Regions from separate parts of the Homo sapiens genome. Here all the other regions are linked to region 2. Evidence: fine-mapped expression QTL. A gene starts in region 2. Each other region holds a variant in brackets. All regions are shown on one strand. Distances are from middle to middle.

Evidence for each region. PIP is the estimated chance that this variant, and not a neighbour inherited with it, causes the effect.
Region 1: its variant is the best candidate, but not a certain one, in a credible set for the expression of REEP5 in whole blood (INTERVAL, PIP 0.77).
Region 3: its variant is the best candidate, but not a certain one, in a credible set for the expression of REEP5 in lung (TOPMed, PIP 0.80).

The regions. Positions count from the first base shown.
Region 1 is chr5:112,763,433-112,768,432 of GRCh38, reverse strand. APC (APC regulator of Wnt signaling pathway) reads right to left here. Exons shown (of 16, transcript NM_000038.6): 3 at 2,023-2,107; 4 at 1,043-1,244. Among named protein-coding and RNA genes, the nearest start is that of APC, 28 kb to the right of the region's middle. The variant G/A (reference allele first, on the strand shown) is at 3,111.
Region 2 is chr5:112,919,670-112,925,009 of GRCh38, reverse strand. REEP5 (receptor accessory protein 5) reads left to right here and starts at 2,783. Exons shown (of 5, transcript NM_005669.5): 1 at 2,783-2,937; 2 at 3,754-3,847. The coding sequence starts at 2,820. It overlaps LOC105379123 (a long non-coding RNA gene), which reads right to left and starts at 2,623. Exons shown (of 3, transcript XR_948675.3): 1 at 1,354-2,623. RefSeq lists an enhancer at 1,261-1,380 and silencers at 2,513-2,782, 3,143-3,592.
Region 3 is chr5:112,654,949-112,660,288 of GRCh38, reverse strand. LOC102467216 (a long non-coding RNA gene) reads left to right here. Exons shown (of 3, transcript NR_104673.1): 2 at 2,009-2,094; 3 at 3,517-3,861. Among named protein-coding and RNA genes, the nearest start is that of LINC02200, 29 kb to the right of the region's middle. The variant C/T (reference allele first, on the strand shown) is at 2,340.

The DNA of each region.
Region 1 (5,000 bases), 160 kb after region 2:
ATATACTTCAATAGATAATCAGAAATTCAATAAAAATCCAGTTACTACTTTTTTTCTTTTTTTTTTTTTGGTAAAGAGACAGAGTCTTGGCCAAGTGTAGTGCCTCATGCCTGTAATCCCAGCACTTTAGAAGGCCGAGGCAGGGGGGAATCACCTAAGGTCATGAGTTTGAGACTAGCCTGACCAACATGGTGAAACACTGTCTCTACTCAAAATATAAAATTAGCCAGGCGTGGTGGCACATGCCTGTAATCCCAGCTACTTGGGAGACTGAAGCAGAAGAATCGCTTGAACCTGGGAGGCAGAGGTTGCAGTGAGCCGAGATTGTGCCATTGCAATCCAGCCTGGGCAACAAAAGTGAAACTGCATCTCAAAAAAAAAAAAAAAAAGAAAGAGTCTTACTATGTCACCCAGGCTAGTCCTGAACTCCTGGCCTCAAGCAATCCTACCGCCTCAGCCTCCAGAGTAGCTGGGATTACAGGTGTGGGCCAAAGTATCTGGCAAGTTACACATTTTAACTACGTATAAATATAATAATTATGTGTATTACTCAATGTACAGAGTAGTCAAAGTATTTAAGTGATAACCAGCTTGGCCAACATGAAGAAACCCCGTCTCTACCAAAAATACAAAAATTAGCCAGGCGTGGTGGTAGGCGTCTATAGTTTCAGCTACTTGGGTGGCTGAGGCACAAGAACCGCTTGAACCCAGGAGGTGGAGGTTGCAGTGAGCCGAGATCATGCCACTACACTCCAGCCTGGGAGACACAGTGACACCCTGTCTCAAAATAAACCCCAAAAAACAAACAAAAAAACAAAATAAGTGACAAAATAGGTCTTCAGAATCCCAGGAAACGGCCTTGTTTATATTTTTAGATTTAATGTAAGTGCAATCAATAACATGCTATCTTTGAGTTTAAAAATGCAAAATGCTCTAAGTGTTAGCTATCACCTACTATAAATTCACAATTTAAATATTATATTACAAAATAACAATAAACTGGAGTACACAAGGCAATGTTTACTATATGAAGAAAAGTTACCTCTCTTTCTCAAGTTCTTCTAAATATCCAGTACTTTCTCTGCTTCCATTTACAAACCCTCTTCTTGGAAATGAACCCATAGGAACAGGACTGCACTCTCCAGAACGGCTTGATACAGATCCTTCCCGGCTTCCATAAGAACGGAGGGACATTTTTGACCGCAGTTTTACTCCAGGGAAATTACTGCTATCTAAGTTAAGCTCTAAATAAAATAGAAACAAGTTTTTATACAACAATTGCTTTAAGCAGTCTAAAATATTCTTAATGTTATATTATTTTAAAGTGAAATATTAGGTTTACATTTTAACCACAAATATACATGACTGAAAACAAAAATTATTTAGGACTTTCCCTGAAAAGTCCACTTGGGTCAGGGTAAAAATAAGGAGTGTGTTAAAGGAAAATTAGATAAAATGTACTTCCTTAGACTTCCTCTAAATAATATTTTAGAATCCAAAAGTAATTTCTCTGTCTGGCTTCAATTATTATCAAGCACTTTCTCTGTTCTGACACTGGAATTTTCAAGCAACAGAATGAGAAAGATATCCTTTTAAAACTGCTAAAAATGAATTATAATCAACTTATATATGTGAAAAGGTTAAAGTATTTCTATCCTGAATGAAGAAGACAATACTTCTTCCAATGAAACAGTAGGCTCAAGTCTATGGCATATAGAATACTAAAGCCCTATTTAGTGACTGGCAGAATAGCAACAAGCTTTACAAAGAGCCGAAAATTATTTAAGGGAGGGATTTAAAATAGTTCATTCAAAGCCAGTTAAATGTTTAACTGAAGAAATGACACACAAATACATTTTTTATTTATTTGTACTTTAACAATTACATCCTGAGGGTAAGGCTAACATACCAAGAAAACTGATACCAACACCCAAATCGAGAGAAGCTGTACTTGGATCTACACACCTAAAGATGACAATTTGAGCTTAAAAAATTATTTTAAAACACCTTTTTAAAATCTACCTTTAAGACGCTCTAATAAATCAATCTGTCCAGAAGAAGCCATAGCTTCATCTTCAATACTTCCTTGTAGTTGTTTAAGTACTTCCTGTTAAAAAGAACACAATATATTAACATGAAATTCTAAATAACTTCAAGACATGATTCTGTATTTCTTGACATTTAAGTATGCTGAGAAAAAAATTCAGATCACTCTCAAAGCACGCACCTTATATATATTACCTATTATTCATTATTAATAAATAAATCATGGCCAAATAATAATAGTGATATTTTGAGATAATGGTGATTATGGGGAGTCTCTGTGCAAGGTATTAGAAACACATTTAAGATACATTCATTATTTCAAACCTAAAAACCAACAATGCAAATTATTCTCATTTTTCAGATAAAACAAGTGAGACCCAGAGACTTGCTCAAGTTACAAAAGCTACTTATGTGTTTAGAATCCATGTCTCTTAAGCGTGCACCAACATGACCATAAAAAACACCAAATTAACACATAATCTATTTAACAACTTCAACATTCAAGCTTTTATATACCACATTTAAGTATATTCTGCTAGTATACTAATTTACAATTAGCATACATTCAAATGACTGTATGTTCACTACTTCTTGACTTTTGATGCTTTTCTTCTTTCCCATGTAATCCCTTTCTTGATCATTTTTTCTCAAAGAATGTTGGAAATTTTCATTTTCTACCAGTTTTTCTGCCATTACATTTGTGAACTTTGGCTCTTATTGCATGCTACTTAATAATAATTTATATTATTTTCCATTTACTGAGGCATTCCATTCTAGCTCCTAGCATAGTTCTTTGGCCAATCAGGTTTCCTGAATGCAAGACAAAATATTTGAACATTTGCAACTTTGTAACTAAATGGAACGTTCCCCTATAAGAAAAGTAATCTGTAAATACATTAAAAGGAAAACCTGTCAAAAAGTGAGTGACTGGAGCAAAGACGGTTTCACTGATTTATCTTGACAGTGACATTGTAAGCATTCATGGTGGCTCATGCCTGTAACCTCAACGCTTTGGGAGGCTAAGGCAGGAAGGTCACTTGAGTCCAGGAGTTTGAGACCAGCCT[G/A]AACAACATAGCGAGACTCTGTCCCTACAAAATTAAAAAAACAAACAAACAAAAACCATGAGTGGTGGCATGTGCCTGTAGTCCCAGCTACTTGGGAGGCTGAGGCAGGAGAATCACTTGAGCCCAGAAGTTTGAGGCTGCAGTGAGCCACAGTCTCACCACTGCACTCCAGCCTGGGGGACAGAGTGAGACCTCAGCTAAAAAAACAGAAACAAAGAAATCGCCCCCAAACCCCAGAATTCCTTTTAATAAATAGCCTTAGTATCTGACCTTCAAAATAATAGACTATGTTGGAGTTTGAAAGGCTTTGGTAAGTAGATGTGGGGGCATGAAGGTGACTGTATTATTTTCAAAATATTCCAGAGTGTTTTACATTTGTGGAATAGAAAACAAATTTGCTCAGTGATAACTTCCTTTACTGAATTTGAATATGCCCATCAAAATGTCTACTATAAACTTCAGGGCACCATCTCTTCCATTTAAGAACTCTCATTGGAGACTACCTGTGATTTTTCCAGGATTCCAATTCTCTTTCCATCCATTGCTACTGTTTTAGTCCTTCAATAATCCTTTTTTAATCTTATCCTTATTTCTCAGGCTTCCGGTCTCACAATTCAACAACTACCCTTGAGCAGTTAATTTCCAATGACATGTCTCGAATCCTAACTTCACTTGCAAACTTCAGACTCACTTTTCCAACCAACTGATGGATGCTTTACATCTGTATGACAGGTACCATACATCTAAATGTCCAGAACTGAACTAACATTTTGTACCAATAAAGCCTATTCTTTGCCTTGTATTCTCTCAGTTAAATGGCATTAGCCTTCTCTTTCTCCTCCAGCTCAAATCCTTAGCACCTCTTCCTTCACATTCCCAGTTATGGATTTCTGGTGATTCTACCTCTATTAGCTCTCTTACAGCTATCTCTTTCATATTCTTACTGCCACTATCTTGTTATTAACCCTACCTAAACTATGAAAATAATTTCCCAAGTGGCTCAACCTTGCACAGAGCTGTCAGAGCAGCCTTTTTAAGGCACAGCTGTGATCAGGTCTCTTTTTTTTTTTTTTTTTTGAGACGGAGTCTCGCTCTGTCGCCCAGGCTGGAGAGCAGTGGCGCAATCTCGGCTCACTGAAAGCTCCGCCTCCCAAGTTCACGCCATTCTCCTGCCTCAGCCTCCCCAGTAGCTGGGACTACAGGCTCCCGCCACCACGCCCGGCTAATTTTTTTTTTTTTTTTTTAGTATAGTAGAGACGGGGTTTCACCGTGTTAGCCAGGATGGTCTCGATCTCCTGACATCACCATCCGCCCGCGTCAGCCTCCCAAAGTGCTGGGATTACAGGCGTGAGCCACCGCGCCCGGCCGATCAGGTCTCTCTTTGTAAGATTCTTCTCCAAAGCCTACAGTAGTGTTCTCAAGCGTCAGCATGGATCAGAATCACCTGAAGACCTTGTTAAAACATAGACTGTCGATTCAGTAAGCCTGGGGTAGAGGCTGAAAATCTGCATTTTGAACAAGTTCTCAGGTGAAGCTGATGCTGAAAGCAGAATCATTAAAATGTTAACAGTGTTATTCTATGGAGACTGAAATTACAAGCAATTTCTTTTTTACTTGTTGTGTCATACTTTTTAAACAATATGTATTAGAAAAAATCCTACTTGTTTTTAGAAAAGTTACAAAGATTTAAAAGTTTAAAAATAAAAAATCCTTCGTACATCATTGGACATACATCTAATTTTTTCAAAACTAATGGTACATTAATGGTCTTTTTAAAAAGAAATAATAAAAACTTAAAATACTAAAAAAAGAAATTAAAAAGCCATATAAATTCAGATGTCCAACAATAAGTATTAAATAAACCATAGCATTTTTTAGCTGTACCTACAA
Region 2 (5,340 bases):
TGCCTCGGCCTCCAAAGTGCTAGGATTACAGGTGTGAGCCACCGCGCCTGGCCAAATTTCCCATTTTATAAGGACAACAGTCACACTGGATTGAGGTCCACCCTAAGGAGTTCATTTGAATTTGACTACCTCTTTGAAGACCCTATTACCAAATAAGATCACACTCTGAGGTACTGTAGGTTAGGATTCCAACATGTCTTCTTTAGGGAGGTAGAATACAATTCAACCCATAATAGCAATGTAATATAGGGGTAAGAGCCTGATTCTGAATTCTAGCTCTGCCACTTATTGTGATATGGGAACTCACTATGTCTCATTTTTTTTTTCCTTAAATGAGGATGAAACAGGTAGCATCTTCCTCATGCAGCTGTGAGGATTAAATGAACTAGTCCACGTAACACTTGGAATACTGGGTGGTACAACACATGTTAGATATTCATTCATTCATTAATTCAACAAATAGTTATTGAACAACTACTAAGTGCCAGGCACTGTTCAATGTGCTTAAAATATTGAAGCAAATAAAATAAGCAAAAATGTCTACCCTCACGGAGCTCATAATCTAGTGAGGAAAGAAAGATAATTTAAAAATAGAACATGGTCTGGCATGGTGGTGGCTCATACCTGTAATCCCAGAACTTTGGGAGGCCAAGGTGGGCAGATCACAGAGTTCAAGACTGGCCTGGGTAACATAGTGAAACCCCATCTATACTAAAAACAGAAAAAATTAGCCGGACATGGTGGCACACGGCTATGGTCCCAGCTACTTGGGAGGCTGAGGTGGGAGGATGGCTTGAGCACAGCAGGAGGTCGAGGCTGCGGTGAGCTGTGACCACGCCTCTGTACTCCAGCCTGCGTGACAGAGTGAGACAGTCTCAAAAAAAAAAAAAAAAAAGTAGAACATAATGCCAGACAGTAATAAATTCTATGGAGAAAAATCAAGCTAGAGACCACTGGGGGTTGCAATTTGAGATTAGGGGTACCATTTGAACAAATATCTGAATAATGGAAGGGGACAGTTAAATGGTTAACTGGGGAAAGATACTTTCAGATAGAGGAGGGTTTCTGGACTGTCACATTATTGACATTTGGGGCTGGATAATTCTTTGTTGTGGGGGCTGTCCTGTGTGTTACAGGATGTTTAGCAGCACCCCTAGTCTCTAACCACTAGATGCTAGTTGCACTTGCCACCTCCTGCTCTCCTTGTGTGACAATCTGTTTCACAACGAAAGTATCTCTAGACATTGCTACTCCTCCCCCCAGGAGGAAGAAGGGGAGAGGAAGTGCTCCTGGTTGAGAACCACTGAAATAGAAGAAAAGTGAACGAACGCCCAGAGGCAGGAATGGGCTTACCTTGTCTGAGGCACAGCAAGGAGGGAGGCAGTAAGGGAAGACATCAGAAAGGGGAGGGATGAACCATGTCACCTGTGACCCTGATGCCCTCCTTCAGGCAGATAGGAAGTTGCTGGAGGGTTGAGAACAAAAACATAGCACAACTTGACGCACATTTTAAAACAGATTCTACTGTCTGCCACATTGAGAATTAACTGTAGGTGAAAAGACAGAAGTAGACAGCAGGTTGTTTCACTTGTTCACTGATTTGGCTGGGTGGTGGTAGGAACAGCTGAGAAAGCTGAGCTAAGAAGCTCTGAGGAAGAAAGGAGGAAGGAGAATTAGCATAAAAGGAAAAAGCTAGGCGTGGGCAAGATAACTTTTTGCAGAAGTGGAAGGCAGTAGGGTAATTAAGTAGATTTGAAAGCACAGAGGGGTTGTGTAGGACCAAGACAGAATGTTCGGGGCCAGTTGTGGGCAGGGCATTGAATGCTCTGCCAAGGAATGGGAGCTCTAGTCTGTTAGGATAATAATACGGAGCTTCGGACAAAAATTCTGCAGCAGTGTGCAGAATAGGAGTCAACAAGAGTAATTTTAGGAGTGTCTGGAAGTCATATGGGTGAGATAAGAGGAGCCTAGGTTTAGGTGGAGGAAGAGCATGGCCAACTCATTCTGAAGGAAGCAAAAATGAGCTCCTGCCCTAAGGCTTGGACCTTAGAATCTCCGTCTTCTTCAGAGTATTTTGACTGTAGGAAGTGCAGAGTATATTGGCTCCACAGAGAGAATTTGGACACTTGCCACAGTATCAGACACCAAGACAACGCAAGCCCACCATGAAAAGATTTAATGCAGTTTTTGCTTGGAAAAGGTGTACCCCAGGGAGGATGTGTTAGATTTCTTCAAGGGTCTTTACAAGGCAACGATTGTCTGTAGGTGAGAAAAACTGCCAAGTTAAGGCAAAGAGGGAGAAAGCAGGACTGCTTCCAAAGAGTTCTTTCACGATGCTCAAACATTTCAATTTTTTAGGTCAAAAATGCCTTAGGTTTAGCACAGCAATGTAGGTGCCAAACTCATCGCAGTGAATTGCAGGCGGGAGCAACAAGGACGCCTGCCTCCTTTCTGCCTGCTTTTTGCAATAGTCCGATTTGAGAAGGGGACCCACGAGAGACACAAAATGCACGCCCCCACGCCACATCCTTTTTACCCCGCAATGGGTTAAGACTGTCAACAGGCAGGCCACCTCGCAGCGTCCGCGGAGTTGCAGGCCCGCCCCCGCCAGGGTGTGGCGCTGTCCCCCTGGCGCTGGGCGGGGGAGGAGGGGCGCGCGGCGGCCGAGGAGGGGCGCGCGGCGGCCGGGCGGGGCGAGCGGAGGCGAGTGGAGGACGCGTAGACGCGCCGCGGTCCCCGCCTGCCGCTGCTCCGCCGCAGTCGCCGCTCCAGTCTATCCGGCACTAGGAACAGCCCCGAGCGGCGAGACGGTCCCCGCCATGTCTGCGGCCATGAGGGAGAGGTTCGACCGGTTCCTGCACGAGAAGAACTGCATGACTGACCTTCTGGCCAAGCTCGAGGCCAAAACCGGCGTGAACAGGAGCTTCATCGCTCTTGGTGGGTGGCCGGGGGTCGCCGCCGCTGGTAGGGCCACGGGAGCCGCCGCTGCCCCAGCTGCTGGGGAAGGAAGCAGGGAGAGGACTCGGGAAAGGTGGAGTCGGAGACAGACGGGACAAGCAGCATATTCAGGGATCAGGCTGGCCTCCCGGAAAGCGTGGGCATCGGAGGACCCCGCGGGGGCTGCCCAGGCTGAGGGTCGCGGGGCTGGAGGGCAGCTGCGGCGCCGGGCGCTGGCAGCTGGAAGGGCCAGCGCTGACGTATGTCTGCCCCGCGGCCCGGCGCCCTATTCCTGCTGTCCTGCGCGGTGGGCGCGGACGGCGGGGCCCCTGCGGGCGGGCGCGTTGACGGAGGTACCCGGTCCTACCCGACCCTCCGTGGAGCTCCGCCCGGAGAGGGCGCCTCTCGGGTGGGCGGGGGCTGCTACTGCAGCGTGTGCGGGAGTCCGGGCCTCTCGGGACGCTCCCCGCTGAGCGCAGCTTCCCAGGCTGGAGCGCTGCCCAGCAGGCCCTGCGAGAGGGCGGAAGCGGGTGCCTGGGACCGTCCCGGGCGCCGGGGGTTGCTGCGCAAAGCGCCGGGGCCCCCTGCGGGAGGTAGGAGAGGCACAATGGTGGGGCTGCCTGGTATCCCCAGACTTCAAGGCATAGCCCAGCGGACGCGCAGGCCCAGCTTTCGTGTGGTTTGTTTTTCTCGCTCCTTTAATCGAGTCGAGAGGAAAACTCCTACAACAGGCCCAGCCTCGCGGTGTGGGCGGCGGCTGTCCCGCGTGAACGGCTCTCATGCTGCCCGACCCACTTCTCTCCTTGTGGTCCCCAGGTGTCATCGGACTGGTGGCCTTGTACCTGGTGTTCGGTTATGGAGCCTCTCTCCTCTGCAACCTGATAGGATTTGGCTACCCAGCCTACATCTCGTAAGTGACACACCCTGCAGCCGTCCCCTTCCCTTCCTCCATTCCTCCCCGCAGGGCTGCTGCAGTAGACTGCACATCCGCAATTCCCGGGAGAAAAGTGAAAGCTCGGCGGGGAGGGATGAGGTTGGACATAAGGGGTGGGGATAGTATTCACCATTTTGGAACCTTAACTTAATCCCTATCTCTTGACGATTAGCCCAGAGGTATTTTCATTAGATTATCCTGGTGACCAGTGTCCCCTCTCTTTGGCACACTAACAGGAAAGCGCTACCACTCTGTCGTCCTCCCTTTACTGGTGGGAGGATCTCAGAAGGTACAGGGAGCTGAGCACTTCTGTCTAGTAATTATTTTAATGAGTATTTCACCATATATTTATGCACCTAGAGAGTAAAACCCTATCAATTAGGTCTTCCTTAATTCATAATTACGTTAATTGAGACAGTAGGGAGAATTTTCTCATTTTCTTTTATTTTGAAAAAGCCACATGTTACAGACAAACTTGGGAAATGCTTACCCTAGTGTAAAAACAAAAACCTTTAAAAATGCTCCATGATATAGCTCCTTGGTTATATAAGTGAGTCATTTATATAATTGAGCTACTTAAAAAATGAATTTTTACGATTAGGATCTGAATTTATTACCAAAGTTGTTTTTATTCTACAATGTGTTTATTTTTTTTAATTCTACGATTTTATTTTTCCATTCGTTCAAGTAGGAATTATTCCTCTCCAGAAATGAATTTTGTTTTGCTCTACAGTTCTTCCTAAGAAAGCCAGTGGTTTTTACCTTCATTCAGTTGGTCTCTGCTACTTTCTTCAACCATAGGGATAAAAATAAAGGAAGAAAAAATTTTCACCTAGGAGGCTAAGACACAGATAACACATTATTACAGCTTGTATCTGTCACTAGTTAGGCTAGAATTTAGTCTATGACTATAAGGGAAGAAACATGTTTTAGAAGTTAGTTCTGATTTGAGCAATTAAATTGCAGTTACCTAGTAGTTGTTACTGTGTTAGTCCGGTACAGACACTTAGTCATACTCCAGAAAGTCTAGCTACATATAGCCCTGAGGCCTACCCCGGGCTCTGCTTTATGGAGGAGACTCAAGGAAAAACGGGATTGTGTGCACAGAATAAAGCATACAGACCCCCGTGAGCAAATATTCAGGCGGTCGGTGTTACATTAGTCTAATCAAGTCTGTTCATTGCATAACCAATATGATTGTATAATTGTCCAAAAGAAAGAAAAAGTATTTGAAAATGGTGGTCTTTAGTAGCATCAAAATCCATGTTGCTTAAAGTGTGACCTGTGAACACTGTCTTAGTCTGCTTGGGCTGCTATAACAAAATACCTTAGACTGGATAATTTATAAACAATAGAAATTTATTGCTCACAGTTCTGGAGGCTGGGAAATCCAGGACCAAGGCACCAGCAGATTTGGTGTCCGGTGAGGGCTTGCTCCCTGCTTCAAAGATGGCATCTTCTCACTGCTT
Region 3 (5,340 bases), 260 kb after region 2:
AACCAATCCCCCTAGCATTTACTTGTCCGAAAAGGATTTTATTTCTCTTTCACATATGAAGCTTAGTTTGGCTGGATGTGAAATTCTTGGTTGGAATTTCTTTTCTTTATGAATATTAAATATAGGCCCCCAATTTCTTCTGGCTTGTAGCATTTCTGCTGAAAGGTCTGTTTTTAGCTTGATGGGATTCCCTTTGCAGGTGACCTGACCCTTCTCTCTAGCTGCCTTTAACATTTTGTCTTTAATTTTGACCTTGGAGAATCTGATGACTATGTGTCTTGTGGATGATCATCTTGAATAGTATCTTGCAGGGGTTCTCTGCATTTCCTGAATTTGAATGTTGGCCTCTCTGGTGCACTTGGGGACATTCTCATGGATGATATTCTCAAATATGTTTTCCAAGTTGCTTGCTTTCTCTTCCTCTATTTCAGGTATGCCAATGAATCATACATTTGGTCTCTATACATAATCCCATATTTTTCAGAAATTTTCTTCATTCTTCTTTATTATTTTTTATTTATTTTTGTCTGACTGATTTATTTCAGAGAACTTGTCTTTGAGCTCTAAAATTCTTTCTGCAGTTTTGTTGATTCTGCTGTTAATACTTGTGGTTGTATTATGAAATTCTTGAAGTGAGTTTTTCAGTTCTATCAGATCCGTTTGGTTCTTTCTTAAGATGGCCATTTCATCTTTACTGCCCTGTGTCATTTTATTGTGTTCCTTAGATTTTTTTTGGACTGGGTTTTGACTTTCTCCTGAATGTCAATGATCTTCTTTCCTATCCATAATCTGAATAATATTTATGTCTGTCATTTCAGTCACTTCAGATTGGTTAAGAACAGGGGGACTAGTGTGATTATTTGGAGGTAAGAAAACACTCTGACTCTTTGAGTTGACAGAGTTCCTGAGCTGGTTCTTTCTCATCTCTGTAGGCTGGGCTGGTGATCCTTCAATGTTTTAAGTTGCTGTCCTTTGAATGTTTTTTTTCTTTTTATCTTCTTTGATACCCTTGGGGGTTTGATTGTGGTAAAAGGTGGGTTCAGTCAACTGAGTTCATTACTGGAAGATTTTAGGGAACCAAGGCCCAGGTCAACACCTCTGGTTTGCATGTTCTAGCTTTGTGGGGCTGGTACCAGGTCCCTGCCTTTGTTCTCTGGCCCTTTGAAATTAGGAACCTGCTGCACTGGAGGAGCCAAGGTGTTCTTGGTCTACTGGCCACAACACTCCAATGAGTGGTGACAGCCAAAGTGCTTCACAGGGGGTGCCAGCAGCCATGGCAGCATGGCATAGTGCGTGTGCCTACACATATTTCTATGCATGTCTACAGGTGGATGAATAAAAGATAGACAAATAGATGGCTGCTGGCTTGTTGAAGAACAGGAGTGGAGTACTTTTGTAAAAGTTGTCAGAATAAAAATAGTCCCTTGTGTTTAAAAAAAAAACAACAAAAACTCTGACAAATAGAGCCAAGGAAGGCCATGGAGAGAAGGGTTCACATGCATAAATACTTGGTGACAAAAACTGTCACAAAAGACTGCAAAAACCACAACCTTGTACAAAGGCCATCACCACCTTACACAAAAAATACTTTTGCGAGAATATCTACCCCCAACTGCCTGTCCAAACTTGGACTGGTGTCACCCTTGTTATTGATCCTTGTAACCCAAGGAAAATTATCTCAAAACAATTATGTAATCCTCCTCATTTTTCATTTAAAAGCCTTCGTCTTCCTTTACCCCCTTGAATATGCGTATAGTTTACGTGGCACACATATTCCCATTGCAATGCTTTATTCCTGAATAGGTATAATTTTCTTTTAGAGACTCTGTCTCTGTTATTTAGGTTGACACTTTTATAAAAGTGGAAACATACTACAGATAATCATGGGTATGCTATCTTTTATATTACCTGGGCTCTACTCTGTCTTCTGGGATTTTGTTAATTGTTCTATATCAGGGTTCATACTTCCCATTTGAGCATGTGTCCTGTTCTTTTCATTGGTTCTTAGGTTGGGTTATCTCAGAAGCAGAACCTGAGACAAGAAAGTGAGTGGAAGCAGTTTATTTGGGAGAAAGTCCCAGGAAGCACTGGTAGGTGAGTGGAAAAAGTGAGGAAGGGAAGGGAAGAAAGCCAGTAAAGGGTGAGCCAGTAAAAGGTTACTTTTGTGGGCCATAGGAGCAGCTCAATCCCACCAGGGATCTCTGGGAGGCAGTGCAGAACACATATCAGAGTTACTGCAATTGAGAGTGGAGAAATTGGATATTTGTCCCACCTGTTGTCAGTCATTGGTTGAGCATTGCTGGAAGGAGGCATTAACTTCCCAGCACTTTCTGCCTGCC[C/T]CACAAGAGGCCAAATGGGCTCTGCTGATCAAAAGAACCCTCAGAGGCTGGGTGTGGTGGCTCACGCCTGTAATCCCAGCACTTTGAGGGACCAAGGCAGGCGGATCACTCGAGGTCAGGAGTTCAAGACAAGCCTGGCCAACATGGTGAAACCCCATATCTACTAAAAATACAAAAAATTAGCGGGATGTAGTAGCACGTGCCTGTAGTCCCAGCTACTTGGGAGGCTGAGGCAGGAGAATTGCTTGAATCTGGGAGGTGGAGGTTGCAGTGAACCAAGATCATGCCACCTGCACTCCAGCCTGGGTGACAGAGCGAGACTCTGTCTCAAAAACAGAACAAAACAAAACAAAACAAAACAAAACAAAGCAGAACAACTCTCAGCTATAGGTGGTTGCAGTTGGAAGCTCAAAAACCAGATATAGGAATTGTGAATGCTGAAGGGGTGTGGGCAGGGCCCCAACAGTGTTGGTATTACTCGGGGGTTTTGGATTGTTTTCCTAATTCAGTCTGGAACCCTGGAGCCTCTCATACTTTTCAGAGCATCAGAGCCATTGCTCACTTCTCTATTTATCCCTTTTCCTTCAGCATTCATTCCCATCATTTCTCAGTCAGAAGATGAGAGAGATACACATATGCACTCAGTACATATATTCTATCTTTATCTGGAGGTTTTGGTAAGAGTCCTCAAGATTTTGTTGACTGTCTTGTACTGTTTCTGGGGGCAGCAGTAAAGGTAGGAGCTGAGCCTTCCTGTGTATCTGGCTTTTCTGTTCTGTTCTAGAAGTTGGTGCTCCTCCCAAGCCCTTCCTGCCAGTTACCTCTCACAGTTTTTTAAGTTATCATATGATGATTTAAAAATGTGTCCACAAATTCTTTCACATTCTTCCTCCAAAGGGCAGAGGCTAATTCCCCTCCTCCTGAGTGTGGGCTGGACTTGATGATTCTCTTCTTTTTAATTAATTAAATTATTTATAGAGATGAGGTCTCGCTATGTTGGCCAGGTTGGTCTTGAACTCCTGGCCTCAAACAATCCTCCTGCCTTGGCCTTCCAAAATGCTAGGATTACAGGTGTGAGCCACCATGCCTGGCCTTGATGATTCTCTTCTAATGAATAAAATACAGTGTAAGTAAGGGTATGTGACTAGCAGATCAAAAGCATCCCGATTCCCCCCAGCTTACACTCTTGGATCACTGACTCTGAGGGAAGCCAACTACCCTATTGTGAAGCTACACACCAGCTCTGAAGTGAGATCCACAAGATGATTCTGTGAGCCGTCACAAGGAATGAAAGCCTCCAGACAACAGCTGCATGAGACAGTTAGAAAGAGGACCCTCTAGCACCTGTCAAGTCTCTAGATGGCAAAACCTGAGCCAGAACCACCCAGCTAAGCTTCTCCCAGGTTCTTGGCTCACAAAAGCTGTGAAAAGAAATGTTTGTTCTTTTAAGCCATTGAGTTTTGGGGTAATTTGTTAAGTGGCAGTAGATAACTATTAATAATAAAATTGTATTAGATTTTTCCATCTCCTAGTTTGGCTCTTTTTGATAAATTTAAGGCTGACTTTAAAAAATATTTTTTGCTCTCCTTTTAAAATGTGTAGTTTTTCACCATTGTAAACAAGAACTTTGATACTAACTCTTTGCCTCGAATATGGCATAATATGTTAACCTTTGCTTTTCTTTCTTTCTTTCTTTCTTTTTTTTTTGAGATGGAGTCTTGCTCTGTTACCCAGGCTGGAGTGCAGTGGTGCGATCTCGGCTCACTGCAAGCTCCGCCTCCCAGATTCATGCCATTCTCCTGCCTCAGCCTCCCGAGTAGCTGGGACTACAGGTGCCCACCACCACGCCCGGCTAATTTTTTGTATTTTTAGTAGAGACGGGGTTTCACCGTGCTAGCCAGGATGGTCTCGATCTCCTGACCTCGTGATCCACCCGCCTCGGCCTCCAAAGTGCTGGGATTACAGGTGTGAGCCACTGCGCCCGGCCTAACCTTTGCTTTTCACTTTCTTTTTTTTGAAACAGGGTCTTGCTGTGTCACCCAGGCTGGAGTGCAGTGATGCATCCTCAGTTCACTGCAACCTCCGCCTCCTGGGCTCAAGCAGTCCTCCCATTTCAGCCTCTTGAGTAGCTGGGACTTCAAGTGCACACCACCACGCCTAGCTAACTTTTGTATTTTTTTTTTTTTAATATAGAGATGGGGTTTTGCCAGGCTGGTCGTGAACTCCTGGACTCAAGCAATCGATCTGCCTTGGTCTCCCAAAGTGCTAGGATTATAGGTGACAGCTACTGCACCTGGCCATTCCTTTTTATTATACGTAGTCATTGGGGATCTGGGGCAACTTTCGTCATTTTATTTCTGTGACAACAGTGAAGAGGTAATTTATTCAGTGTGTCCTTCCCCCTCACATTTTACCTATAAGGAGAACAATGTGGAGAGGTTAATGCTCTTAATTCATAGAGACACTTACAAGTTCTAGACAAAAGAAAGCTTTAATGTAGCCTCCAAAAACCTCTTCAACTTTTGTGGGTTTTTTCCCACCTACTTCTAACAATCCTCTTGGATTCTCTGGATTCTTAATAACTTCAGTCACTGACGCCATTACTGCTCTCTCCTTCTGGTTCATACTGATTACAAGTGGCTGTTCCTCTGCATCACCAGGTTCATAACCTCAATTTTCTCTGTTCTGAATCTCTTAAGAAGTATTTTTTTCCTATAAATTTCACATTTGCATTTTATTTTTAGAACTATTGCATGAAGGACATAGAATAAAGGGCAGAATCTGATGAGTGGGGAGATTATGACCTCGTGAAGTTAAAGCAGAGTCTCTTAACCTAGAAACTAGAGAAAGCTGGTATTCCCTTTGAAGCAACTCTTGCACCTCCATATTATAATAATTTAAATCACTTTAAAATAAAAAAATTATGTTGAAATGTAAGCATGGGAGAACAGTTTCAAGACATACTTGATGATGTGAAAAAAAAAAACTCTTGTAGAAATAC